4 linked regions of the Homo sapiens genome follow. The protein of the gene in region 4 purifies or fractionates together with the protein of the main gene of each other region. This does not show direct contact. Each region holds a gene or a part of one and is shown on either strand. Other genes may lie near its edges. The genes, in order: JUP, USP12, USP1 and RAD51AP1.

Evidence for each region.
Region 1: the proteins of RAD51AP1 (region 4) and JUP purify together in Homo sapiens (affinity purification with mass spectrometry; 2 studies listed by BioGRID and IntAct, with this or other methods). This does not show direct contact.
Region 2: the proteins of RAD51AP1 (region 4) and USP12 purify together in Homo sapiens (affinity purification with mass spectrometry; 2 studies listed by BioGRID and IntAct, with this or other methods). This does not show direct contact.
Region 3: the proteins of RAD51AP1 (region 4) and USP1 purify together in Homo sapiens (affinity purification with mass spectrometry; 4 studies listed by BioGRID and IntAct, with this or other methods). This does not show direct contact.

Annotation. Positions count from the first base shown.
Region 1 is NC_000017.11:41,783,701-41,790,823, forward strand, and holds the start of JUP (junction plakoglobin), read right to left. Parts: upstream 3,012-7,123; 5' UTR 2,888-3,011; exon of another isoform or gene 2,803-2,887; intron 2,408-2,802; exon of another isoform or gene 2,317-2,407; intron 2,277-2,316; exon of another isoform or gene 281-2,276; intron 1-280. UniProt on the Homo sapiens protein: Common junctional plaque protein. The membrane-associated plaques are architectural elements in an important strategic position to influence the arrangement and function of both the cytoskeleton and the cells within the tissue.
Region 2 is NC_000013.11:27,091,805-27,098,831, forward strand, and holds part of USP12 (ubiquitin carboxyl-terminal hydrolase 12), read right to left. Parts: intron 4,027-7,027; coding exon 3,797-4,026; intron 1-3,796. UniProt on the Homo sapiens protein: Deubiquitinating enzyme that plays various roles in the regulation of the immune response and inflammation.
Region 3 is NC_000001.11:62,440,049-62,447,075, reverse strand, and holds part of USP1 (ubiquitin carboxyl-terminal hydrolase 1), read right to left. Parts: intron 5,589-7,027; coding exon 5,468-5,588; intron 4,882-5,467; coding exon 4,777-4,881; intron 3,918-4,776; coding exon 3,757-3,917; intron 2,339-3,756; coding exon 1,647-2,338; intron 1-1,646. UniProt on the Homo sapiens protein: Negative regulator of DNA damage repair which specifically deubiquitinates monoubiquitinated FANCD2. Also involved in PCNA-mediated translesion synthesis (TLS) by deubiquitinating monoubiquitinated PCNA.
Region 4 is NC_000012.12:4,548,869-4,555,895, forward strand, and holds part of RAD51AP1 (RAD51-associated protein 1), read left to right. Parts: intron 1-4,114; coding exon 4,115-4,279; intron 4,280-7,027. UniProt on the Homo sapiens protein: Structure-specific DNA-binding protein involved in DNA repair by promoting RAD51-mediated homologous recombination.

The sequences.
Region 1 (7,123 bases), on a different chromosome or scaffold from region 4:
ACGAGGTCAGGAGATCAAGACCAGCCTGCGCAACATGGTGAAACCCTGTCTCTACTAAAAATACAAAAATCAGCCGGGGGTGGTGGCACACGCCTGTAATCCTGGCTACTCAGGAGGCTGAGGCAGGAGAATCACTTGAACCCAGGAGGCGGAGGTTGCAGTGAGCCTGGGTGACAGAGCGAGACTCCATCTCAAAAAAAAAAAAAAAAAAAAAAAAGAAAGTGCTTGGTTTCTGTAAAGTCTTACCTTGATCTTGAGTTACCGTTTGTCAAGTACTTACTGGGTAGATAGGTATTAGTATTCCCATTTTGCCAAAGAGGTCACTGAGGCTCAGGTAATGAGAGACAGAGCTGGGTCTCAAACCCAGCTCAGTTCAAGCCCAAAGCCCTGTGCTCAGAACTGCCCCACTGTCCCATCTCTCCAAATAAACAGTCCTTCTGTAGACTAGTCAATTGACCCATCTCACTCTAAGGTGGCTCCAGGATGGGAAAAAGGTTGGCAGCCCTAGCCCGACCTTTTTCGTTCCTATGCACTGCATTCTCAAAGCCTCGGCCCTGGCAGCCCAAACAGAGGCTCCAGAGGGAATGGGGTGGAGCCAGGGTGCAAGGGAGGGGTGGAGTGGGGGTGGGAGGGCTCAAGTCACCCAAGCTGGGGCTTGATCTAGCAAGAAATGACTAACTGGGTCCTACCTTCTCCTCCTCCCCCGCATCCCCCAGTCCAGTCAGTGGCCAGTTTTCACCAAGCACCTCCTAGCAGTACTTCCTCAGTATTATCTTTTCATCACAGCCACAAACCAGATTAGCTAAACTAATCATGTAGCCAACATAATTACAATGCCCTCCCCTCCTCCACCTTGGCACAGAGAAGAGGGAAAGCAGGTTATTTTTGCCCAAACTCCCTGCTCCTGTTGCTCCCCAGAGGTGCAGAATCCCATCCCCCGGCAGAAAAGGATCTGAGTTCCCACACTGACTTCCCCCTAGCACAGGGCTGAGCGTGATCCCCACCCAGGATAAAGGGGCTGAGTCTGGGCCCCCAGCCTCACTCCCCCATCTACAACAAAGAAAGAGGTGGTAGACTCTTCCCCTCCAAGCACTCTCGATCCCCGCCCCCCACAATCTTTCTCCCACCCCCAGGACTGAGAGAGAACCCAACTGTTGTATTCTCTCTCTGTTCCCCAACGAGGCTGGGCTCCAAATCCTGCAAAAAGACCACATTTCAGATTTTTTTTTTAAACCGGGGTACAAACCCTGATCAAGATCCCCAATTCTGGGTGGGGGGGGGCGGTCTCAGGAAATTGGGAGCAGGGAAGGCAGGGGGCCCGATGCAGCTCTGCCTGAGAGAGTCTAGCATTGAAGAAACCTTCCCCCAAAAAGCCTTCCTGCGGTCTCACTTTCCCTGTCAAATTCTTTCAGGAAAGCGGGTGGGAAAGGTCTGTGCAGGCCTCCAGAAAGCATGCACCTTCACAATTCAGAAATCAAATGGAAGGCAAGTCCCACAGCCTCATGCGCTTCTGCCTCAATAACCAGCCAGCTAAGTAATGTGGGGGATGGGGTAGAGGCAAAAAAAAAAAGACAAGAACAACCACTCCCCCCACCTTCCTCAGTTTGGCCCAGCCCTGCCCCACCCCCATTCCTGGGGAGGGGGCAGAGCTTGAGAGACAACCACTTACGCAGGCCTTGTCTGAGGGGGTGTGGTGGTCCCAGGAGGCAGGAAGAGAAGGAAGAAGCTGCTTCCCCTCTCAGCACTTTCCACCCCCCACCCCGGCCCCTACCTCAGGCCCCTGGGGCCCAGCGAACAGGATGAATGTGGGGGCAGGGAAGACAGGGTCGGAGCCCAGGCACCGGCCCAGGTTCAGCCAGGGGCCGGCTGGGGGAAGGGGTTTTGCACCAGGAAGGACCCCCTAAGCCTAAAGGAAGTTTTGGGCAAGGAGACGGGAAAACCCCCAGATAAAGCTGCTGTGAATACTTCCTCCTGCAAAGTTTGTTTTGGGTGATTTTTTCCAACAATAAGAGGTTAGAGAAGACGGGTCCTGTTCCCCTACCAACACTCTGGCAGCCACAGCTACTGGAAACTGGGCCAGGTGACCCTGAATTCTTCATCCGTGCACAGACCCCACCCCCCAGACCCCAGGGCGAGCCACGGGTGCCAGACACCAGCTGGACACTGAGCCGAGCCCTGCACCCCCCAGTCACTCCATCCCACCTCCGCTGAAGAAGCCAGAGCCGGGCTCCCACCGGCGTGGAGGGAGGCGCCGCAGGTAGTATCGACGAGGCTCTGGGAGCTGGAGGGCAGGGCCTCTGGACTCCGTGCGCTCACCTGCTCGGCAGGTGGGGCCAGAGTCGCTGGGAAAATGTGCGCTCGGCCCCCACAGTTGGGCAAGCTGGGCGCAAACAATAGGGCCCCACCCAGGCCTGGGGGAGTAGGGAGGGAGGGAAAGCGAGGATGACGCGTGGGGTGGGGTGAGGGTGGCCCCAAAGAGACCAGCGGCAGCAAGTTCCCCAAACGGTAAATTCCTGACTGCAGCGTGAGCCCTGGGACGCAGTCGAAGCAGAGCAAAGTCTCCCCCGCCAGCCCAGGGCGAGAGTCAGGGACGCGGCGTCGGGCGAGCTGCGCGGGCCCCGGGGGAGGCGCGACCCCGGAGGCACCTGTCCGGATCCCTCCCCGCCTTGCTCAGATCTCTGGTTCGCGGAGCTCCGAGGCGCGCTCGGCCCGAACCGCGCGACCCCCAAGTCGCCGCGCCCAGGACCCCAGCGCGCCCCCTGCCGCCGGTGCAGGGTGGCGCTCGATGGCACCGGCCCTCACCTGCCCAGGGACGGCTGGGACCGGCCCCGCGGCCGCTCGCCACCCCTCTGTCCCCAACGATACCTGCGCCCCCGATAGCCCGCACCTGAGTATGGGGCCTGACCGGGCCGGGTCGGGGTCGGGCCGGGGTGGGAGCCGGCGCGGACAGCGAACTGAGCTCGGCGTGGTCGGGCGGCGGCTGCTCCGGACTCTGGCCAAGGCAGCAACTCAGTAACCGAACAAAAGGCGAAGAGACCTGACAGCCAAGCCACGCCCCTCGCCACCTCGAAGCTCCGCCCCTGGGGGAGACGCCCACCCTCTGGTGCGAGCTCACTGGCTATCTCGCCTGACTGTCCCGTGGAGGGGCGGAGCCTCGCCTCCAGTCCTCTTCCACGGCCGCCTCTGTTTATCCGCTTGCCATTGGCCCCGGGGACTGCCAGTCGGCTCTAGGGATGGACTCTAACTTGAGGTCTCATCCTAACATTGCATCTATTGGCAGATAGAAAGTTACTTCCTCCTGATTGGACAAGGCTCTGTCAGTAAGACTAAGGAAAAAACCAATGGAAGGGATGGGGTGTGTCTTGCCCCACCCTTGCTCTGAGCAGGTGAGACTCATTACTCTCCCCTTCCCCCTACCTGTCCAACAGGTAAGTCATAGGGATACCAAGGGAAGGGACAGACGCCTTCACCGGCCAGCCAACTCAGCGTCAGGCATGATGCTTCTTTGGGCTTATTCATCCTTGCCCCAAAGTAGTAATCACATATTTGTATAGCATTTCATAGGCTTTGTGCTGGGGTGGGATTTTTTTCCCGAAAGATGGAGTACTCCTGGGATTTAGAATTAGAAGGCCAGGTTTGGTCTTCTCCCACTTGGTATGATTTTAGGCAAGTTACTTCACCCTGTTTCTCCTCTTCTGTAAACTGGATACATTAGCCATATCTACCTCACTGGAGTATGTGGGGATTAAATGAGGTCAGGTTTGTGAAAGCACTCAGAAACTGCTAAAGGTTAGAAATTTAAATTAACGGTATGTTTTTTTTTAATTATTGTGACAGCTCTGAAAAATAGTTAGGATGAGAAAACGACCCTCATTGTAAAGATGAAGAAACCGAAGTTCAGAGAAGTCACAAAACTACAAAGTGGCACACCCCAAGCTAGAACCTCCTTCCTCTCATTTGAAGGACCATCAAACCAGCTGTTCCCCTCATGGAAGAGGAGCATAGACATAAAATGTCAAGGCAATGGGGAAGGGGCAGAGAAAAGGCACAAACACTTGGAGGAGAGACAGAACAATTAATTGGCACAAAAATACAGTATTGGTGTCAGGAGGCTTTGGTGGGCTTGGAAACATCAAGCAGCAGATCTGAAGGAAATCCAGCCCTGGCATGAAAGAAACGGGGCAGGCCAGGCGCAGTGGCTCACTCCTGTAATCTCAGCATTTTGGGAGGCAAAGGCGGGTGGATCACCTGAGGTCGGGAGTTCAACACCAGCCTGGCCAATATGGTGAAGCCCCATCTCTACAAAAAATACAAAAAGTTAGCCGAGCGTGGTGGCGGGCAACTATAATCCCAGCTGCCTGGGAGACTGAGGCAGGAGAATTGCTTGAACCTGGGAGGCGGAGGTTGCAGTGAGCCGAGACCATGTCACTGCACTCCAGCCTGGGCATGACAGAGCGAGACTCCATCTCAAACAAAAAAAAAAAAAAGAAAAGAAAAAAATAAACCGGGCAGCACACCCCTCTGCGATAGGAGAGCCTGGGGTAGAGATCAGAGAGAACTTCTCGGCCAGGCGTGGTGGCTCATGCCTGTAATCCCAGCAATTTGGGAGGCCAAGGTGGGCAGATCACTTGAGGTCAGGAGTTCGAGACCAGCCTGGCCGACATGGTGAAACCCCATCTCTACTGAAAATACAGAAATTAGCCAGGCATGGCAGCGGGCACCTGTAATGCCAGCTACTCGGGAGGCTGAGGCAGGAGAATGGCGTGAACCCGGGAGGCAGAGGTTGCAGTGAGCTGAGATCATGCCATTGCACTCCAGCCTGGGTGACAGAGTGAGACTCTGTCTCAAAAAAATAAAAAGGACTTCTCACAGGCAGCTTAAGAAGACAAGGGCACTTCCTTTCTGTGGTTGATGACATGAATGCTGCTCGTGGCTGTATGGTGTGCCAAGGGCCCTACAAACATTCCTTCATTCAACACTTGAGTATTCATTGTCAACTGTATGTTAGGCACTGGTGAACACAGAAAATAAAACCTGGTGACACAGGAAATAAAAATGATCCCAACCTTCAAAGAGCTCATAGAAGGATAAGCAGAAGCAGCGTGTGTGGGTGGGTTTTGGAGGAGTGGTGGTTTAGAAAAGGGTCCCCCATCAACAAAGCTCTACAGCCCCAAAGCTAGCACACAGGATGGGCTGGATGAAGGTACCTTAGCAGCAACCTTGACCACTTTCCCCACCAGAGAAAAGAATGGTAGCTGAACATTCTCCCTTCTGAAGTTGCGCCATCCAAAAGCAGGGCCAGGGAGATACGGACATCCCTGAACTAGTGGCCATCCCATAACCAGGGCCACCGCCCTTTGCCTGTTTCCTCAACTCTCCATCCTCCAGCTTACCTCCCTATCTTTATCCCTGCCTTACCCCTGCCCCATCCACCTGCTTGTCACCCTGTCACATAGAGCTGTAGCCAGGCCACAGCTGGGGAAGGAATGGGCTCACAATCCTGGACTGCTGCAGCTGCCAGGGTTTCATTTCTTCCCCCTTCTGCCCACCTCCCACCTCCACACATGCACACACACATACGTCCCAGCTCCAAGCCTGGCCTGACTCCTTCCTATTTCTCCTGACCTCAGCAAAGAGGCAGGGTAGGGCTGGTTGACTGCAGAGAGGGGTGGAGGAGCCCATGTGGGTGGAGGAGCAGAAATAAGGTTTCAGAATAAACCGTGTGTGTGTGTGTGTGTGTGTGTGTGTGTGTGTGTCTCCCCAGAATGCCCCCTGCGTGTCTTAGCATGGAACATGTTGCATAACACCAGCCCCAGAGCTAAACACACAGGCTGGGACTGGTGGAAGCACCACCACAGCAGCGGCAAAGACTGGGATTAGAGCTGAGTCTCTCCTCCCAGATCAAGGGATTCTCTTTAAGCACCTACTATGTGCCTGGCAGGCACTGAGATTCATCTGTATCTGAGAATACAGAATAGAATCAGAAATGATGTTTCCTAGACTCAGCTGTCTGCACAGGCAATTTGGTCTCTTGTGAAAGGAGGTATGTAGGGATAGGATGGGGGTTTCTGTGACCACAGTCTCCCCTGTAGCTTGAACTTGAAGAAAAGGCCGCAAGGTCATCTTATCCAGTCCCCTGCCTGCAAACCTTTAAAGGCAAGAATTCTCTGACAAATGTCCAGGAAAGAAGATCCTGCAGCCTCCCTTATGGTGAATGCCCCTGTCTCCTTGTTCTAATGTCCAGCCTCAATTCCTATTCCTGCAGTTTCAATTCCTTCCTCTTGCCCAGGGCTCAGTGGAAGCAGAGTCCATGGGCTGCCAAAAACACATATGGGTAACTCAACCTTGCAGCTTGCTAGTGCTTCAGAGTAGAGAATATAAGGGTACCACATGGCCCATCTCAAGCTGCTGCAGAGACAGAAGTAACTGGCGCAGAGAGGTTCAGTGAGGGACTGGTGGGAGGGAGGCTCTTTTCTAGGGGAGGGTGCACACCATCAGCCAGTGTCCAGGACCACCAGGCCACCGTCCTCTCCTTATCTCACAACCCCCCTCATCTTCCACGAGGCCTCTGGGCCATACAAGGAGATGGAAGAGTTTCTGTTCTCCATTCAAACACAGTCCTTAGGGCCGGGCACAGTGGCTCATGCCTGTAATCCCAGCACTTTGGGAGGCCGAGGCGGGTGGATCATCCAAGGTCGGAAGTTCGAGACCAGCCTGACCAACACAGAGAAACCCCATCTCTACTAAAAATACAAAAAATTAGCTGGGCGTGGTGGCACACACCTGTAATCCCAGCTACTCAGGAGGCTGAGGCAGGAGAATCGCTTGAACCCGGGAGGCAGAGGTTGCAGTGAGCAGAAATCGTGCCATTGCACTCCAGCCTGGGCAACAAGTGCGAAACTCCAGCTCAAAAGTAAAAAAAAAGAAAAAAAACCCACAGTCCTTATTCTATGGGGGCCTTTTCCCCAGAGACAGGTAGAAATTTAGACGTACACAAGCCACACACACACACACACACACAACCTTCTATGCTCACACCTCAGGGATATACACTTGCGGGTGCAGATTCAGATACACAAACACCAGCTTTCTCTAATACACGCGCGCGCACACACACACACAC
Region 2 (7,027 bases), on a different chromosome or scaffold from region 4:
ACACCAGAAAAGGGTGTTATAGACACCAGCTTCCTACCACCTGAGACATTACCAATTGCATTTCTAAAATACAAGCATGAGCTCCTCCAGGAAGCTGGTCCTTTACCTGTCCAAATCCTTCCCACTCCCACCTGGGTTAGGTCTACTATTCTCTGGCTGGCATGGCATCCTGTGCATACACATACGATAACACACTGTACTGGAACTGCCTGAACACTGCTTTGCCAGTCTTCATTACCATAGGAGTATCTTGTGATCAGAGGCTTATGTCTTACTCATCTTCTACCATCTTCTACCTGGCATAGTTGGTGCTTAGCACCCCCCAAAATGAATACTTAAATATAAATCTAACAAAACACGCATGGTATTGATATGAGGAAGAACTACCAAACTCCAATGAAAGATAGCAAAAAAAGTGGTAAATAAGGGGAGACAGTGCATGTACTTAGATAAGAAGACTCAACTTTGTCAAGATATCATTTTTTTCCCAACTTCATCTATAGGTTCAGCAAAATCCTTATCAAAATCCCAGCAAGTTATTTTGTGGATATCGACGAACTTGATTCTAAAGTTTACATGGAGAGGCAAAAGACCCAGAATAGCCAACAAAATATTGAAGAAGAACAAAGTCAGAGGACTGAGACTACCTGACTTTAAGACTTACTCTAAAGCTACGGTAATCAAGACAGTGTGGTAGTGGGGAAAGAACAGATATACGGACCAACAGGACAGAAGACAGTGACCAGAAATACACTCACACAAATAAGAGTCAACTCATCTTTGACAAAGGAGCAAAGGCAATTCAACAGAGAAAGAATTGTCTTTTAAACAAATGATGCTGGAGCAGATGGACATCCACATGCAAAAAAATTAACCCAGAATAAACTTTCTAATACCTTATACAGAAATTAACTCAAAAAGGATCATAGACTTAAATATAAAATGAAAAACTATATAATTCCTAGATAACATAGGAGAAATTCTAAGGGACCTTTAGTTTATGGATGACTTTTTAGATACAACACCAAAAGTATAATGCATGAAAGAAAAAGTTGGACTTTATTAAAATTAAAAACTGATAATTAAAACATTAAAAACTTCTGCTCTGCCAGCCAGGCCCGGTGGCTCACGCCTGTAATTCCAGCACTTTAGGAGGCCAAGGTGGGTGGATCACTTGAGGTCGGGAGTTCAAGACCAGCCTGACCAACATGGAGAAACCCTGTCTCTATTAAAATTACAAAATTAGCCGGGCGTGGTGGCGCGTGCCTGTAATCCTGGCTACTAGGGAGGCTGACACAAGAGAACCACTTGAACCCAGGAGGCAGAGGTTGCGGTGAGCCACTGCGCTCCAGCCTGGGCAACGAGAGCGAAACTCCATCTCAAAAAAAAAAAACTTCCACTCTGCCAAAAACAGTGTTAAAAGAATGAAAAACAAGTCACGGACTGGGAGAAAATATTTGCCAAAGACCCACCTGATTATGAACTAGTAGCCAAAATTATACCCGAAAAAAAAAACCCACTTAAAATTCGACAATACTCAAAGAAAAACAGCCTGATTAAAAAATGGACAAAAGATCTGGACACATCACTAAAGAGATATAGATGATAAATAAGCAGACAAAAAGATGATCAACATCATATGTCATTAGGGCCTTGCAAATTAACATGAGATAACACTACACACTTATTAGAATGGCCAAAATCCAACTGACAACACCAAATGTCAGCAAGGATGTGGAGAAACAAGAACTCTCATTCACTGCTGGTAAGAAGGAAAAATCGTACAGCCACTGTGGAAGACAGAATGTTGGTTTCTTATCAAACTAAGTATACTCTTACCATACAATCCAGTGATCCTGCTCCTTGATATTTACACAAAGGAAGTAAAAACTCACATCCACACAAAAACCTGCACACAAATGTTTATAGCAGCTTTATTCATAATTGGCAAAACTTGGAAGCAACCAAGACGTCCTTCAGTAAGTGAATGAACTTTAAAAACTGCAGCACATCCTTACAGTGGAAATGTTGCTCAGCCAAAAATAAAGGAAATAAGTTATCAAGCCTTAAAAAGACATGGAAGAACCTTAAATGCATATTGCTAAGTGGAAGAAGCTAATCCAAACAGGCTGCATACTATATGATTTCAACTACACAATATTCTGGAAAAGGCAAAACTATGGAGACTTTACAGGACTCTTAGCTTTCTTGCTTGTGGACCCTATTTTCCAATGTTATTAAAAACTAGCAGCACAACTGTCACAGTAAAGATGAGATCAGGCAAAATCATAAATGCATGCTAAATCTTGGGTGAGATTTTGATGAGGAGGGAGGTATTTGTGTCTCCCCACAGACTGCCTACTAATTGCAAGGGGATTTAAAAAAAAAAAAAAAAGTCATCATAAAGTGGAGAAACTGGCCCAGCACGGTGGATCATGTCTGTAATCCCAACACTCTGGGAGGCTGAGGCAGGTGGGTTACTTGAGGGCAGGAGTTCAAGACCAGCCTGGGTAACACAGCAAGACTCTGTCTCAAAAAAGTTTAAAAACTAGCTGGGGGTGATGGCATGCACTGTAGTCCTAGTTACTCAGAAGGCTGAGGCAGGAGGATCACTTGAGCCCAGGAGTCTTGGGGCTATAATGATCTATAACAGTGTCACTGCACTAAAGCCTGGGCGACAGAGCAAGAACCTGTCTCCAAATAAATAAATCAAATGGAGAAACACCACCACCTTGACTGGGTGATCAAAAATTAATTTCACCAATGAGAGGCAGATGGATATTGTGTGCCTACAGACGTGATGCCCCGAGAAAAACACAACATGAATGATATATTATTATTAGCCATGAATGCATAACCTGCATCTAGTTAGGAAGAAACATCAGAGAAACTAAATATGAGAACATCTGATTTTAAAAAGGTGAGGGAGGCATATTCTCAAAAAAAAAAAGACCATGTAAATGTTTCAGGTTAAAGAAGGCTAAAGAAACAACTAAATGCAATGTCCCCCTCTAAATTGGATTCTGTACTGAATAGGGAAAATGCTATAAAGAACATGACTGGCCGGGCATAATGGCTCACACCTGTAATCCCAGAACTTTGAGAGGCCAAGGTGGAAAGACTGCTTGAGCCCAGGAGTTCAAGACCAGCCTGAGCAACACAGTAAGACCCCTGTCTCTACAAAAAATAAAAATTTAAAAATTAGCTGGGTGTGGTGGCACGTGCTCGTGGTCCTTGCTACTTATGAGGCTTAGATGGAAGGATTGCTTGAGCCCAGGAAGTCGAGGCTACAGTGAGCTGAGATTGGGCCACTGCACTCCAGCCTGGGTGTAACAATTTTCAAGCTTCATCTTTACAAAGTGTCCAGCAAGTGGGATTTTTTCCCCTCCTTGAGGGTACACTGTATGCTTTAGTTTTTATCCCAACAATGGATACTAAAGGTAATCGTAGAAAAAGGAAAAACGAATTAATATGCCTCCCTGATCTGTATGATCCTATGAGATTATGTCATAAGACATAATTTCCACAACATGGTTCTATGGCCTCCTAAACTGAAAGAAAATCAAACAGTTCAAGCTACAGTAAGTATCTTTCTATCACCTCAGGTATTCATTGTCAATAAGCAACATTACATTAAGAATACAGACAGATTCCTTTTAACTGAAAAATACATCTTTAACTCCTATACCTAAGAATTACAACTTTCAAGTTCATCTTCCATTCTGTCTTTCTCAAAGAACAACCTTTAACATAGTAATTCAATTTTTCTCTATACAAAATTGTATGATATACTTACAGTTTCACAAGTAAGACATCTGGTTTCATTAGTTAATGTTCCCTGAAAAATCTCATGAACCCACGTTGGGTCTGGTGTGCTGTTATTATTTTCATTATCAATATTACCATTAGGTAAACGACCATTTTGTTTTTCCTGCTTTCTCTCTTCTTGTAAAATATCAGCAATTGTATTTAGTAGGTAATTTAAGAATTCATGGGCATCTTGTTGCATGTAGTTGTCAAAAAGCTCTGAAAATAAAAACATTATATTAGAGAATTATTTCAGAATTCATAACTTCATAAAAAACCAATTTATAAAAGAATATCTAGTATTGGATCAGAACTAAAATATAAATGCACAATGTTTTTGTAATGTATAACAAATAACTTTCGCATCTAAAACTTTTATCTGTATTTGGGGAAAATGTAAAATTAATTAAAATCTTGTTTAAAAATACTACTAATTGATCCTGAGAAAAGGGCAAAACCTATCCTTATATATTGGCATAACAGATACTGAGAATTTAAGAAGAAATTGCTTATTAGCTTACCTGACTTATTATTTCACAAATATTTCAACTTGGCAAGCTTTAAAGCAGAAGTTGGACAACCATTTGCCAATGCCAAGCCAACTGCTTTAGACCCACAAAGTTTATCAAAAATAAATTACTGAACCATACATCCCAGGGATTCTGATTTAGTTGATAAGGGGTAAGCCCAGAACGTGGGGCTTTTCAAAGCTCCTCCAACTAACTCTGATGTAGAGTCAGGTTTAAGAATCATGTTATCAAGAATTATCTATATAATCCAGATAATCTCAAGTCCCTTCCAAATGTGAGACTTTATAATTCCACAAAACGTTCCCTGCAGTTACACAAATGAGTAAATATAACTGAAATATTGGTGGTGCTAACATCAAGCGTGCTTTACCCTGTGCTTGGCAATATACAACTCTACCATAGAACAGTAAGGACTTTAGAGGCAGTATCTCATTTGATCCCCAACAACCATGTAATATTGTTATTAACTTTATTTGTAAACATGAAAATGGGACGAGACAGAGTACAGTCACACTGCCAAGAAATGGCAGAGCCAGGATTCAAACTGGGCAGCCTGACTCCACCATGCCACACACAAAGTAATGCCCAGTATAAGCCCACACACAAGAACATACATGAATTGGTCAATAAAATGCATTGAGAAAAATTACCTATTTAGGACATTTTATTTTTAGATCCTCAATGTACATTTAATAAGTTCCAGAAAGATTTTACATTTTAAAAATGAATGCATACAAATTTAGAAAAAAATTTAGGGAAAGTCTAAGATAAAACAAATTAACAATTACATTTTAGAAGAGATACAGATATGACTACATAAAATTAAGTTCTATGTATTAGAAATCTTTAAAAAAGTTTTAAAAAAAGTGAAACCTGAAAATTATTAACATTTTCAACATATAAAAGCAAATCTCATATAAAAGAAAACCAAACTGGACAATCTTATAAATGGCAATCAATTTATAAGAAAAAAACAATCAAAAGGCTAAAAAACATGAGAAAATGTTCAATCCCATAGTAAGTTTAAAAAAAAAAAAAAAGCAGGCCAAGCGCAGTGGCTCATGCCTATAATCCAGCACTCTGGGAGGCCAAGGCAGGTGGATCACCTGAGGTAAAGAGTTTGAGACCAGCCTGGCCAACATGGTGAAAGTCCGTCTCTACTAAATACAAAAAATTCACTGGGCATGGTGGCACATGCCTGTAATCCCAGCTACTTGGGAAGCTGAGGCAGAAGAATCGCTTGAACCCGGGAGGTAGAGGTTGCAGTGAGCCGAGATTGCGCCATTGCACTCCAGCCTGGGCAACAAGAGCAAAACTCCATCTCAAAAACAACAACAACAAAACAGAATACCATCTTTCTTTGCAAAGTCATTGTAAAAACAGAAAGGGAATGAGTGAAGCTTTTTATGGGGGTAGGAGGGCACAGCTGCTAGAGCAAGGCTGTCTGGGTTGGTGCTATGGTTCTACTTCTAACTGCACGCGTGGCATAGGCAACTTATTCAAGCTCCCTGTTCCATAATTCCTCATCTGAAAAATGGGGCTCACAGCAGTACCTGTACCTCACAAGGCTGGGAGGAAGATTAAAAGTGCTTAGAATACAACAATAGGTTTTGTATTCTGTTCAACAACAACCACAGTAACAATATTGGCAATATCACTACATGTTGAATATCCTTTATCTAAAATGCTTGGGACCAGCAGTGGTTGGGACTTCAGACTGCTTCAGATTTGAGAATATTTTCATACACATAATGAGATATTTTGGGGATGTGACTCAAATCTAAACATGAAATTCATTTGTTTCATATACACCTTATAGCCTGGAGGTAACTTTATATAGTACTTTTTTTTTTTTTTTTTTGAGATGGAGTTTTGCTCTTGTTGCCCAGGATGGAGTGCAACTTCATATAGTATTTTTAAAAACTTTGTGCAGGGAAGTAAATTTGTGTACACTGAACCATCAGAAAGTAAAGTTGTTACTACCTCAGCCACCCCATGTGGCATCATGCAGCTCAAAAAGTTTCAGATTTCTGGATTACGGATGCTCAACCTATATAATTGTTGTTGCTACTGAACAGAATACAAAACACATCAAAGACTGACTATGTAAAAACTATGAACTTCTGTATGGCAAAGTCAACATAAATGAAGACAAGTGACGAACAAGGATAATTATTTGCATATTAATATCCAGACTATGTAAAGGTTTAATATACAGAATATTTAAAAAAAAACCCTTTACAAAACAAGAAAAAAAATTTTAAAAACTGGCAAAGGAAAATAGCCAATTCAGAGTAGAAATACAAATGCCTAAATAATACATGACAAGGGACTGGGAAATAACAATTAAAACAATGACAAAATATCATTTTGCCCATCACTTTGGCAAAATAAAAATTGACTTAGTTTCCATCCAGTGTTAGCTTGAGTATGGAGAAATGGACATTCTCAACTGTTGCTGCTGGGAGTATAAACTGGTATGGCACGTTGTAAAGGCAATTTTGGTAACAGATTTAAAATAATGCAACCTAGTTCTCCCAGGTATCGATGCCAGGTAAGTATCTGTGCATGTACCAAAACAAGCATAAATACGGCTGCTTATTTATAACAGCAGAAGTCTGAAAATATCCTAAATGTTTATCAACAGGAGAATGATTTATTTAAATTATGCTATAATTTTGTTAGGGAAT
Region 3 (7,027 bases), on a different chromosome or scaffold from region 4:
TTTGGGAGGCTGAGGCGGGCAGATCACCTGAGGTCGGAGTTCAAGACCAGCCTGACCAACATGGAGAAACCCTGTCTCCAGTAAAAATACAAAATTAGCCGGGTGTGGTGGTGCATGCCTGTAATCACAGCTACTCGGGAGGCTGAGGCAGGAGGATCGCTTGAACCCGGGAGGTGGAGGTTGCAGTGAGCCAAGATCATGCCATTGCACTCTAGCCTGGGCAACAAGAGCAAAACTCTGTCTCCAAAAAAATAAAAAAAATAAAAAATAAAAAAAAGTCAGTTGTATTGTAACTCCCTTCCTACAGACACCTCCCCATAGAATAAACCCAGAATAAGGATGACATTTTTGGTAAAACTATTCACTATATCAATATTACACATTTTCCCTGATATCTGTAGATCTGGACAAAACTAGGTAAAAATCTAGTTCAAGTATCGTGTAACTTACAGTTATGCACCACCTACCAACGTTTCAATTATTTAACAATGGACCGCATATGACAGTAGTCTATGATTATTTTTACTGTACCTATGTTTACATATCTATGCTTAGATACGTCTTAGATACACAAATACCATTGTGCTACAGTTGCCTACAGTATTCAGTAGTTATATGCTATACAGGTTTGTTGCCTAGGAGCAATAGGCCATGCAAAGCTTGCCTGTAGCCCGTAACAAATTCATAAACTTTCTTAAAACATTATGAGACTTTTTTGATTTTTTTTTTTTTGGCTCATCAGCTATCATTAGTGTATTCTGTGTGGTGTGGCCCAAGACACTTCTTCCAGTGTGGCCCAAGGAAGCCAAAAGATTAGATACCCTGGTCTATACCATATAGGCTAGTTGTGTAGTACGCTCTAGCATCTAGTTGTGTAAGTACACCGTGAAATTCACACAATGAAACAGCACATTTCTCAGAACATATCCCTGTTGTTAAGCAACACATGACTGTACTTAGTCTTTACTTTTAAAATTTCACTAAATGCAATGTCCTTCATCAGTTTATGTCAAACACTGCATAAAGGGAAATGTACTCTTAAATGTACATTAAAATATACTGAACTTCCCTACTTTATTATTATTTGTTTTTTTTTGAGACGGAGTCTTGCTCTGTCGCCCCAGGCTGGAGTGCAGTGGCATAATATTGGCTCACTGCAACCTCCACCTCCCGGGTTCAGGCGATTCTCCTGCCTCAGCCTCTCAAGTAGCTGGGACTACAGGCGTGCGCCACCATGCCTGGCTAATTTTTGCATTTTTAGTAGAGACGGGGTTTCACCATGTTGACCAGGCTGCTCTTGAACTCCTGACCGCAGGTGATCTGCCCGCCTAGGCCTCCCAAAGTACTGGGATTGCAGGTGCGAGCTAACATACCTGGCCGAACTTCCCTACTTTATAAGCTATAAATTAAAATTACTTTAATGACATTACACACACACACACACACATATATATGCATACAATATATACACACACACTAATCTAAGCATAGCACTTAAAACACCATAGTTCACATTCAGTGTTAAATTTCCTTCTCTTGAAACAATTTTAGCCAGAGATTATATTGTACATGTATCTAGGAAGAGAAAATTCTAATTCTGTAGCTGCTAATGCTTCTACCTATCAAAGTCTAAGAATTATACTAACCTTTGTTTATGGGTTTAACTTCATTAACATTTACAGGTGTAACAGTATTTCCTGGAGATTCAAGTCCACAACCATTAGTTGTGTTATCACTTTCACACTTCCCCAAGTCCTCTTCAGGATCACATTCATTTTCTTTAGATTGTCCTTTGACTCCTTGGTTTGTTGTTATTTTTCCCAGACTACAAAATTTAGAAAGAATGCTGGGTTGCTTAGTTGCAGACTTTAACCAATTTATTTTAACTCTTGATTTCTTTTGTGAGGGTCTTGGACTCTCATTTTCAGAAATATACTTGGGAATTATTTTAGGAGGACTCTCTAATGTATCACTTGTAGCTTTTCTTTTTGATCTAGTTTGTCTCTGGTTCTCTTCCAATGACTGGTGTTCCTTGGATAATTTAACTTTTTTCTTCATGTTACCAAATTCAGTGTCACTTTTTCTTTTCCCATTTCCTTTTGGGAGTTTCTCTTTAAAGTCTTCAGAATGCCTCATACTGTCCATCTCTATGCTGTTAATACCATTCATTTCCTCTTTCGGATGAGGTATTTCTTCTACCTTAGTAGGTAATTCTGCCACATTTTTTACTTCTTCTTTTTTTAGGAGTTGGCATGTTTCTTGAATGTTTCCCAAAATACATTGTAATACTTCCTGTGCATCATGCTGTAGATATCCTTCATACATAGGGTTGAGTTCCCTATAAATAAAAATTTCCATTTCATCTATTCTAGTTTTGAAGATACAGTACATAAAGCCTATATAGAAATTAATTCATGTAAGGAAAATCATAAATTATTTCATTTTTTAAATGTCAAGACATTTATTCAGCACTAATTTGGAATTTCTTATCTGTAACTAAAAGTAAGAGTAAATTGTACCCTATTTTCATTATAATACTTTGATCCTCTTCTAAATATATTAATAACTAATACTTAGATAATGCTTACCATACACCAGGTTTTAGTCAAAATGTTTTTTATCTCCTATGTATACATTATCTTCACAATAACCCTATGAGGTACTATTATCACCATTACTGACAGATACAAGCACTAAGGCACAGACAGGTTAAATAACTTGCCCAAGGTCACAGAACTACTTAGGATGAAAAGCCAGTATTCAAACCCGCTCTTGGCCACCACGCTACAATGGCCTTTTTTTTTTTTTTTTTTTTGGAGACAAGGGTCTTGATCTGTTGCCCAGACTGGACTGCAATGGCGCAATCTTGGCTCACTGCAACCGCCGCCTCCCGGGTTCAAGCGATTCTCCTGCCTCAGTCTCCCGAGTAGGTGGGACTACAGGTGCAAACCACCACACCCAGCTAATTTTTGTATTTTTAGTAGGGGCAGGGTTTCACCATGTTGGCCACACTGGTCTTGAACTCCTGACCTCAAATGACCCACCTACCTTCACCTCCCAAAGTGCTGGGATTACAAGTGTGAGCTGTGACCGGCCTACAATACCTCTTAACTAAGGTATAGCAATATATTGCACCTAGTTCTATTTTTAAACTAAATGCTTAAGTGATTGTTTTAAAGACTTGCCCTATAATTGTATTTGAATAAGGCTATTTTATATGTAAAGTTTCATTTTTAAGAAAATACCAAAAAGCAATCTAATCCAGTTAGCCAACAGTTCTCCTCTAATCACATATAAAAATAGAATATTTGGAATTTACAGTTCTTACACATATTTTGAATATAGTCCTATAATTCTTAATGTGAAATCCTTAGGACCACGCATTTAGAAATTCAGACATTTTCAGATTCAATGATTATATGGCATATAAGTAAAATATTTATCACCGACTTGATATGGGAGTACTCTATAACTAAACACATTACTACTTCTATAGAAGCATGTATGAATATTCACGTTAGAGATAAATATGAATGACTATAAAAAGCCTCATATAATATGTTCAGATCTAACGAATTTAGCACCAAATTTATGAAAAAAATTTCCAGTATTCAGAGTCTCTGGGATATAAAGGACTGTGGACCTAGAGTTTCTACTTTCCTTGCCCTTTATTCCTGTTTCTTCGCATGTCATTCTCCTCCAAGGATATAAACAAGTAGCTAAATTGAAACCCTAAAATTATATTATAGGCTATACCTCAGTGTGTTAAGCAGTCGCCTTGGCTGAGTGGCAAGTTCATCAGTATATTTCTCTGGATTTAAGAGAAAACTAGCCTGGAGCTGTTCAACCGAAATGATTAAGGACTGTAAACTGCATATCAATTCATAACTTGCCAAAGAATCTTCTTTGCAATTTCCCTGTCAAGAAAGAAACACACAAACCAATAATTTTATGAACAAATTAAGTACCTTCCCCCTTTGTCTTTGTCTCACTTAAGAATACTAGATTTTCTAAGTTGCATAATAGCACTAATTTTAAGGGATGTACAAATAAGCCTTATTTTTTATTTTTTTATTTTGAGACAGGGTCTCTGTCGCCCAGGCTGGAGTGCAGTGGCTTGATCGCGGCTCACTGGAGCCTCAACCTCCTGGGCTCAAGCAATCCTCCACCTCAGCCTCCCAATTAGCTGGAACTACAGGCTCACACCATGACGCCCTACTAGTTTTTGTATTTTTAGTAAAGACAGGGTCTTGCCATGTTACCCAGGCTGGTCTCAAACTCTTGCGCTCAAGCAATCCACCACCCACCTTGACCTCCCAAACTGCTGGGATTACAGGCATGAGCCACCACGTCTGGTCTTTTTTGTAATTTTAAGAGGAATTATGAATTACTATTTATGTGAATTACAATGGTTTTTTAATTATGGAAGTTAAAGATTTCTTTAAATACACTGTATTTAAATTTTAACTCAATTTGAAAACACAATGGGTAAATAAGTTGTACATGGGTATAACATATTGTGATTATAGTATACAGTAATATATAGTATACAAGTAACAAAAGTTTGATACACAGATTACAGGAGCAAACATTGTAAAAGGGAATTATCTAGTTAGCCACCTTGAAAGAATGAAAAATAATTGCCTGACAATAGCTCGCTAACAGAGAAATAATCTTTGTCATCCACCCCCCCAGTCCTCTTCATTTCCAGGCAAGTAAATTTCCATTAATTTACTTTTGCTTTTTACATTATTTTCTGTTCTTTATTTTTCTTACCTTGTCTTTTTGATTGGCTTCATCCTTTAGAGCTTCTTTCTTCCTTGAAATAATATTAAATAAGTGCTTTACTCCAGATTTAAAACCGGGACAAAAATATAATACCTATAAAAAGTGAGATTGTCTTAAGTGTTTACTGAACAAACAATACACGTAAAATCATTAAAACAACATCATGCTTTCTATAGAGCACTTTTAACATGTATTACCCTAAAATTCTGAGATTAAGTTTTGTGTCAAAATTTGTTCTCCACTTCATCAGTAGTAGCCCAGTGTCTTCCCTCATTAGCACAAAGCACTGCACCTGGGCAGATATTGCTAAGACTTTAAGGTTACAAGGACACACAACACAGCGCCAACGGACACACAACACAATGCCAACGTTACTTCCAAGGGATAAGACATATATCACACTGTAGCACCAGGAATCAGAGAAAGAAATTAAAGGTTTGACCTTCCACTTAAGGTCTACTCAATTTTGCTATCCCACCTTTATTTAGTCTATCATTTTCTCTTACCCCAAAGGAAGTTTAATAACATGTAACTTATTATTTTAGCCTATTCTGGTTTATTAACAATCAAAGGCAAAGACAGTATGGACATTAAAGTCCTCCAATAACTCAAAAACATTAAATGCTACATCAATCTTTGCCTACTAAAGCTTTATGATATAGCAAAATTGTCAATTTACCTGAAGTATACTATTAAGATAGCAAGTATTGCCGAGATTATTCAGTCCCACAAATGGTAACAAGTTTTCTCTCTTCTCACAGTTTATAGGTGAAGACTGTGCTGCAGGAACAACTTGATCACTATGAAATATAGAAGGGAGAACGATAAGTAGTTATCTTAAAGAAACAAGGTGAAAATATTACTTCTGTAGATTTAGTCTTTTCCCAAAAGTTGTATAATCTGAAAAGTATGTGAATCTTGTTCAGATGACATTTTAAGAAATACAGGCTCAAAAATTGCTATATGCCCAGAATAAAAGTTTTAAAAGCATTTAAAAACATTATTACACATAACAAGCCACAGAACAATTCCCTTAAAAGGATGTTAATCCTATTTTACAGAGTAGAAAATTGAGGAACTGAGAGACTATGATTTGTTTCATCTACTTTGACATTTTAATCAAATAGTTTAACTGAACAGAAACCTGGGAATAAACTAACCATGACAATATTTGGGAGAGGCTGCACTAAGTAAGATTCTATTAATAAGAATTCAGAGGAAAGAAAGTCTGTGAAGAGAATTATATATGACTTCCTGCTGGTAAAAAAAAAAAAAATATGTAGCTATCCCTCACTTAAAAATAAAATGTTCAGAATGTGGGTGTGGGGGCATTGACATGTAATTCCAGCTACTTGGGAGGACTGCTCGAGCCCAGGAATTCAAGACCAGCCTGGGCAACACAAGGAGACCCCATCTCAAAACACAAATGCTTTAAGTTTACTATTCTTTTACTTCTTTAACAACAACAACAAAAAAACCACTAGGTCCTTCCAATATTTTCATTTATTTTACGATTGCTAGCTATTATTACTCTAGCACCTCAAAGTATTCAGAAGTATGAATGCTGATAAACAAAAGCTTCACTCTCACAAATCTCCTCAACTGGTTATTGATAGCTATTAGGAAATTAACACATGGGACCAAATCCACCTTAGTCACCCAGCAGAGTGCCTATATGTTAAACAGGGAGTAGTACAGACTCCAGCTAGAGCTGCTGGTGGTGGAATAAAGTATTCCACTTTGTTCTGATTTATTTTCTGTAGCTAAATAATTTATTTGCATCAAAAGCATTACTTAAAGTTTATTTTTATAATTTGCAATCATATGCCTCCAACAGGTATGACTAGTTACATGACTAGAGTTTAAAATGTCTTATAACTGTCAAGTCTTCTGAACCAAACAAATATATATATATATATATATAAAACCTTTTACCCCTACACAGATGTTTTGCACTACAAATAATCAAATTTAAACTCAGAAAGACAATTTTAGTCAACAAATATTTCTCCAAGTTAGTCTAAATGGCTGAGCACAGTGTTAACATGAGTTAAACATTATCGATGTGATTCCTACGGGGAACCACCAGTTTTGCTGTTCCTACTATAAACTGCTAGATTTGACTAAGAAGTACACTGAAGCGTACTTTTTTGTGCCGCTACAGACTATCAAGTCAGACTGGAGTTGTCAACCAAGTTCACTGCTGCTTTACTGTAGAATTTTTAAAGTACAGAAATGT
Region 4 (7,027 bases):
TGGGAATTCAGTCAAAAAAGTTCTTGGAAGCTATTAATTGTGCAAAGCACTGTGTTAAACCTTTGGGGTGTGCAAACTTCAGGGACACACAGAACAGTTCAATTCAGTGATAGCATTTGGGGAAAAAGTTTTTTCTACGAGTTAACCTTTAAGCTATGCCTTGAAAAATGAGTAGCGTTTCAACAAACTAAAGGTGTAAAGTAGCATTTCTGACTAACAGAAAGGCATTACCTGTGGAATAGACAAATGCTCTATTTGTCTCTAACTGAGGCTTGCTGGGATGAACATGGAAGAGGCTCGAGAGGGAGGCTGGTACTAATCAGGGAGGGTCTCAGACCCACTGGAAGAAGTGTAGGCTTTTTTTTCCTGGAGGTAGTAGAAATCCATGAATTATTCTGAGGCAGAAGTGATATGAAATCTATATTTTATTATGATGGTTTTTAGACTCATTTAGAAATTGGGCAAATGGAAAGTGTAGTGACCTTGACAGAACATTATAACATATTAATTAAAAATTTAAATTCATAAATTCATAAATGTAGGCCAAATCAAGATACCATATTTTAGATTTTGATATACTATCAACAAACAATAACAGATTTGCTCATCGTCACTTATTCGACTAATATTTGAATGCTTTTTATGTGCATTATATTCTAGATACTAGGGATACAATAGTGAAAAAAACAAACAGCTCCTGTCCTTCTGGAACAACGGAAATACATGAAAAAAGACTGTTTTGCATTTGTTTTACTTTGGGAGGGCCTGGGAGACAGGAAAATGCAAAGACACTCTTTGAGCGCCAATGTGATGCTTAAAGGAAATACTCATTTGAGCATTTTGGATTTCTGGAATTGGAATGCCCAACTGGTATAATGCAGATGTTCCAAAACCCAAAGAAAATCTGAACCCTGAAACATGTCTGGTCCCAAGCACCTCAGATAAGGGATACTCAGCCTATACTATATGATCTAGCAATCCACTTCTGAGTATGTATCCAAAACGATTGAAAGCAGGATCTCAGGGAGACATTTGCATACCCGTGTTCATAGCAGCATTATTCATAATAGCCAAGAAGTGGAAGCAGCCCCAAAGTGACATTTCAGTTTTCCCCCTGCATTCGCTTGTCCTGGATGAGAATAGAAAGGACCATGTGTGACCTTCATTAGGGAAAGAAAAGAGAAAATTGCAGAGAAGATAAGTCTTTTCTCTAACAGTTCCCAAAATCCGTAACTGAAGTGTTTGGGCCTTCCAGATTTTCCTCTATGGGATGCGAATGACTTGGAATTTTGGGAATTCCAACTCCCCATCTCTAATTTTATTTAAATTGCTTTCTCAATTGACTGACGAAGATTAGTTGGACCCCATTTCTGAACAAGCTTGTTACACAGAAATGTTGCCAGGGCCTACTGTTTATCCTCTTGAGCCAAGAAGAGAATCCTTCAGACTTCTAAGTTACTGAACACATGCAGTATCAGAACTATTGGATACACAGAAAGTTTTGTTGTAGATAATATATTTGGAAAGTTTGGAGAAAGTTCCTCTACCCCTTGCCTTCTTTGAGCGGAGAGCTTCTTAGGATTGCTTGAATTTGCAGGCTGCATTTCTAACAGCCCTCATGGGACCTGCTGGCCTTTCTGGGCTGATTCTCTATAGCACGGGAACCGTTATGTGAACATGTGAGTTGATTATCTTTAACATTGTGTGTGGGAACAATGATAGAATAAGGACATTGCAATTTGAAGATCATAATGACATTGTTTTTTGTTTTTGTTTCGTTTTGTTTTTTGAGATGGAATCTCGCTCTGTCGCCCAGGCGGGAGTGTAGTGGCACGATCTTGGCTGACCATGGCCTCCGCCTCACAGGTTCAAGCAATTCTTGTGTCTCAGCCTCCCAAGTAGCTGGGACTACAGGCATGCGCCACCATGCCTAACTAATTTCTGTATTTTTAGTAGAGATGGAGTTTCAGCATGTTGGCCAGGGTGGTCTTGAACTCCTGACCTCATGTGATCCACCTGCTTTGGCCTACCAAAGTGTTGGGATTACAGAGGTGAACCACTGTGCCCAGCCCATAAATGACATTGTTGATTTAGGTAAAGGTCATCAATGGAAGGTTGATAAGGATCTTTACAATGTTGAATTCAGGCTGGCATCACCTGAACCACCTAAGAGAGGGACAACCACACATTATATGATTTCTGATGTGATGTAATATGAAGTACAAAGAATATACTTATGAAGTATATTCTTGCCGTCCCTCCTCCCCCCACCACCAAAAAAAGCGAGCCTGAATCCACTCAAGCCTTGAGAGCAGAATTCCAGCTCACATAAAATGCAAGAATATGGCCGGGCACAGTGGCTCACACCTGTAATCCCAGCACTTTGGGAGGCTGAGGTGGGTGGATCAGTTGAAGTCAGGAGTTCGAGACCAGCCTGGCCAACATGGTGAAACCCCTTCTCTACTAAAACACAAAAATTAGCTGGGCGTGGTGTTGTGTGCCTGTAATCCCAGCTACTTGGGAGGCTGAAGCAGGAGAATTGCTTGAACCTGGGAGACAGAGGTTGCAGTGAGCCAGGATTGTGCCACTGCACTCCAGCCTGGGCGACAGAGTGAGGCTCCATCTCAAAAAAAAAAAAAAAAAGCAAGATTAAGTTAAATGACACCATGAGCTAGAAAACAGACAAATCCAGAATTTAGGACATTCTACAGGACAATTGACTCAACTGCTTCAGCAAGTCAGACACAAGGGAGGACAGGGAGAAGATACTGCTCTATATTAAAAGAGATTAATATAGACTGAATAGAAGATGATACCAAGAAACTAGTGTTGGTATTGCTAGATGTAATAATGGCATTGTTGTATGAGAAAATGCTTATGTTTTTTAGAGATACATTCTGAAGTATGTAGGAATGTAATGATGTGATGCCTTGATTTTATTTTAATATACTACAAAAGGGAATAGAAGAAGAAGAGCGAGATAGATGAAACAAATGGAGCAAAATGTTGATAATTGTTGAATCTGAGTGGTGGTTTATTACTGTCTACTGTGGTATAGGTTTGAAAATTTTATATGATTGTATTTTACATATAATATTTCTTATAGATAGGTAGATATTAGTATGTGGGGACAATAGTGGTTATCTCTGAGTGGTGAGATTACAGAGTAGATTTTCTTTAATAAAGTTTTGTATGGTCTGTATTTTCTACAATCAGCATGTACTGTTTATTTTTCATTTTATTTGTACATTTTTTGATTTAAGCATTTTCTGCAATAAGCATGTCCATAATATTAAAAATGTAAAAAAGTTTTATATTAATATAGGACTAACCCTATTTACACTTAGTTTTCAGAGTTTATCTACAAGGCATGGTTTTCTGATCCTAACCCCCTCAAAAAATAGAAAGATCATTGCTTAACTATCAGGTTAGGAAATGCTTTTTTCTAGAGCAGCTGTAGCACTTTCAAAATTAGATCACTGGCTTATATTTTGCCACGAAGTGCAGAAAAGCATTTTTGAGAAATAAAGGTTTGTCCCAAATGAAATCAGCTCTAGGATTATCTGCTAAGATTGTTGTGTATGGTTATCTCAATTCTCATTTGGTCTGTTCCAGAATGTTGAAGTTTATGTGATTAAGGGAAGGCTCACTATTACCATAAATGTCACTGTTTTGAAAGACTAGCTATTGTCATACCCTACCATTCTTTTCAAAAGTCACTGAGTTAAAATGGTAAAATCTGAAGTAAAGATTACTGATGGGAAATTTATAGTGATGGTGGTAATAGCAAACAATTTTATTTTGCTCAGTATATTGCAGATGTTATTCTAAATGCATTATATATATATTAACTCATTTAATCCACGCAACAACCCTTTGATGGAGGTTTACAGTTATCCCCATTTTCTAGGTGAGGAAACTGAGGCTCAGTGAAGTTAGTGACCTGTCTGAGGATGCAAACCCAGGCACCCACAATGGCAACCACTGCAGTGTTCTGCTACTGGAAACAGTGCAGCACAAAGGTGCATAAGAATCTGAAAGCTGTGGATAAAGTTAAGGCAACAGAATCCTCACTTTTTAGAGCAAAGATGAACTATATAATCTTCTGTTTTAGGTGAAGATTCTGAGGATGATTCTGATTTTTGTGAGAGTGAGGATAATGACGAAGACTTCTCTATGAGAAAAAGTAAAGTTAAAGAAATTAAAAAGAAAGAAGTGAAGGTAAAATCCCCAGTAGAAAAGAAAGAGAAGAAATCTAAATCCAAATGTAATGCTTTGGGTAAGCTTGGTCCAAAACACTTAATTTTATAAAGGAAATGTATGTGGTTTGTTTGCCGTATTTTTCTTATTTTTGCCTTTGTTCTCTTTAACATTTTCCTAACGTCCATTTCTTGTTAAAATATGTAAAAGGAAGGTGGGGTGGGGAAGGGAGAAAAGCGGACAAGAATGCTGACTCCACTACGTATGCTAGCACTTACTGTATATGACCTCACTTTGGTACTCATGGCTGCCGTCTGTGGTTAGCTGTTGTCACCTGCATTCTACAGTGAAAAACTGAGTGTCAGAGAGGTTAAATAATTTGTTGGAAATCTTACATCTAATAGGTGAAGGGCTAGAATTTGAACCCATGTTTGTCCATTCAGAGTCTAAGCTGTATCTTGGACCATATTTTCTCCAGACAAAACAAGGAAGTTTGCATAATTCTAATTTTTTGCTTTTGTGCTTTACTTAGTCTGATTTGAGAGCTCTTTTGCCACATGTTTAGGGCCCTTTTTTTTTTTTTATTTCCCCAAAACAAATTCCATTAGAAACTACTTTTATGATAAAACGTTTAAAATTTATGGTGACTCGAACATGGAATACCTGTTTCTTGTGTAAAAGAAGTTAGGATATTTTTGAGTTCATAGTATATGATAGGTTATTGCAAAATATAACTGTCATTAACTGAGTTTGTTTTATTTCTTGATAATCATTTTTATGTCTTGGTTTATTTAATATATATGCTATTGATATTAAAAGTTCCATTATTTAGTCTTTCCATTTATTCATAGGAGCTGCTGTCACCTTCAGTAGCCTGTTGCTGAGTACTTACTAAGAATTAAATGAGAATTAAGTACTGATTGAGTTATATTCTTCTCTCTCCTGTATTTTGAATTAATGAGGTTTTTTAATTAGAGTGTTTTTTTTTTAATTGATGACTTCATCTGGGTTCCAGAAATTCTGAGTATCAGAAGTCGAAAGTGGTTCTCACTGGGCTAAAATCAAGTAGTCAGCAAAACTGTGGTCCTTTGTGGAGGCTCTAGGAGACAAACCACGTTCTTGTCTTTTCTAGCTCCTTGAGGGTGCATTTCTTGGCTTGTGGCCCCTTCCACCTTCAGAGAGCAATGGCAGGGACTTTCTCACATCATGTTACTCGACTCTGACTTTCTTCCTGCTCACGTTTACTTATAAGGACCCTGTGATTACATTGGGCCCCTCCAGATAATTCAGTGTAATTTCCCCATCTAAGATTCTTAATTACATCTGCAAAGTCCCTTTGCCATGTAAGGTAACATATTCACATGTTCTGGCAATGACGATGTAGACATCTGAGGAGCCAGTATTCTGCCTACTACAAGCTATAATAGGAAAAAGTTATTAACACCATGAATATATTTTGTATTTTCTTTAGATGTTTGTTTATGCTTCTTCACCAAGACACACTAATAACTAAAAATAAAACTTCAGTTCCCAAGTTGGAGTTTACCATTTAAAATCTTTTCTCTATCCCTTGGAGCAAGTTGCTTCACAACTGAGATTTAATATATAATATTAGAAATGAAATTTAACCATTAAGTGATAGGACTAGGAATTAGGAAAAATGGATTATATTTTTAGTCCTACTAGTAATGTATTGGGTAAACTTTGCGAATTGTGTCTAGCACATGTTATAATTTTCCCTTGATAGAAAAAATGTTGAGAGCTATGCTGTCCAATATGGTAACCTCTAGCCATGTGTGGCTATATTACATTTGAATTAATTAAAATTAAGTAAAATTTAAAAATCAGTTCCTCAGTTTTGCAAGCCACATTTCAAGTGCACAGTAACTGTATATGGCTAGCGGCTACCATATTGGACAGCACAAAACACAAAACATTTCTATAATCACAGAAAGTTCCATCAGACAGTGCTGATCTAGAGGATGCAGATGTTAACATTAGGAAGAGTATACGGTGAAAATGTTCATGTTTATATGTGTTGAAATACCCCTAGGTATCTCAAAACAAGCACTGTCTGAAAGTGAACTTAATGCCACCTCTCCTCCCTCCCCACCACCAAAAAAATAAATAAATAGAACCAAAACATACTTCCAGGCTTGTGTTTATTCTCTAGATAAATGGCACCATCAAAGTGTGCCCATGACAGGAACCTGCAAGTCATGGATTATTTCTTCATCTCCATTGCTGCCTCCCACCTATTTTTGCCAAAACATATCTAATGTGCTGTTTTCCTTCTATTCTCCACCTTAGCAGGCCCCCATTTCCTCTTACCTGATTACCATAATAACCTTCTAAGTAGCCTACTTCTCCTACACTACCACCAGAAAGATGTTTTTAAAATACAAATCACTCCTGAGAAAAATATGTGCATGACTGTGACTAGCCAGACTCTTGTACATGGTCTGCAAAGCTCTTCATAAGTGATCTACACCCAGTGTCTATCTCTCACATTTCCTACCCTTGAGATTTCTGCTCCAGCCGTACACTGAACCAGTCAGTACTACTGATTCTGGAACTTGGTGCATCCTCCATCTTTGCACACTGTACTCCCTCTGCCTGGAAAGCTTCTCTCAATTCACCTTTACTCTTCAATCTTGATTTGGTTCAGACCATCCTCACTCACCTCCTTCTAACTTTAAAACACATACCCCCAGATTGCAGTTTCCTTTTCTACTTGGCATACCTTTAGAGTCTGCCATATCCCTTACCACACTGCATTTTACACATCTTTACTTTCCTGTTCTTCCCACTGAAGTCTAGTGACTAA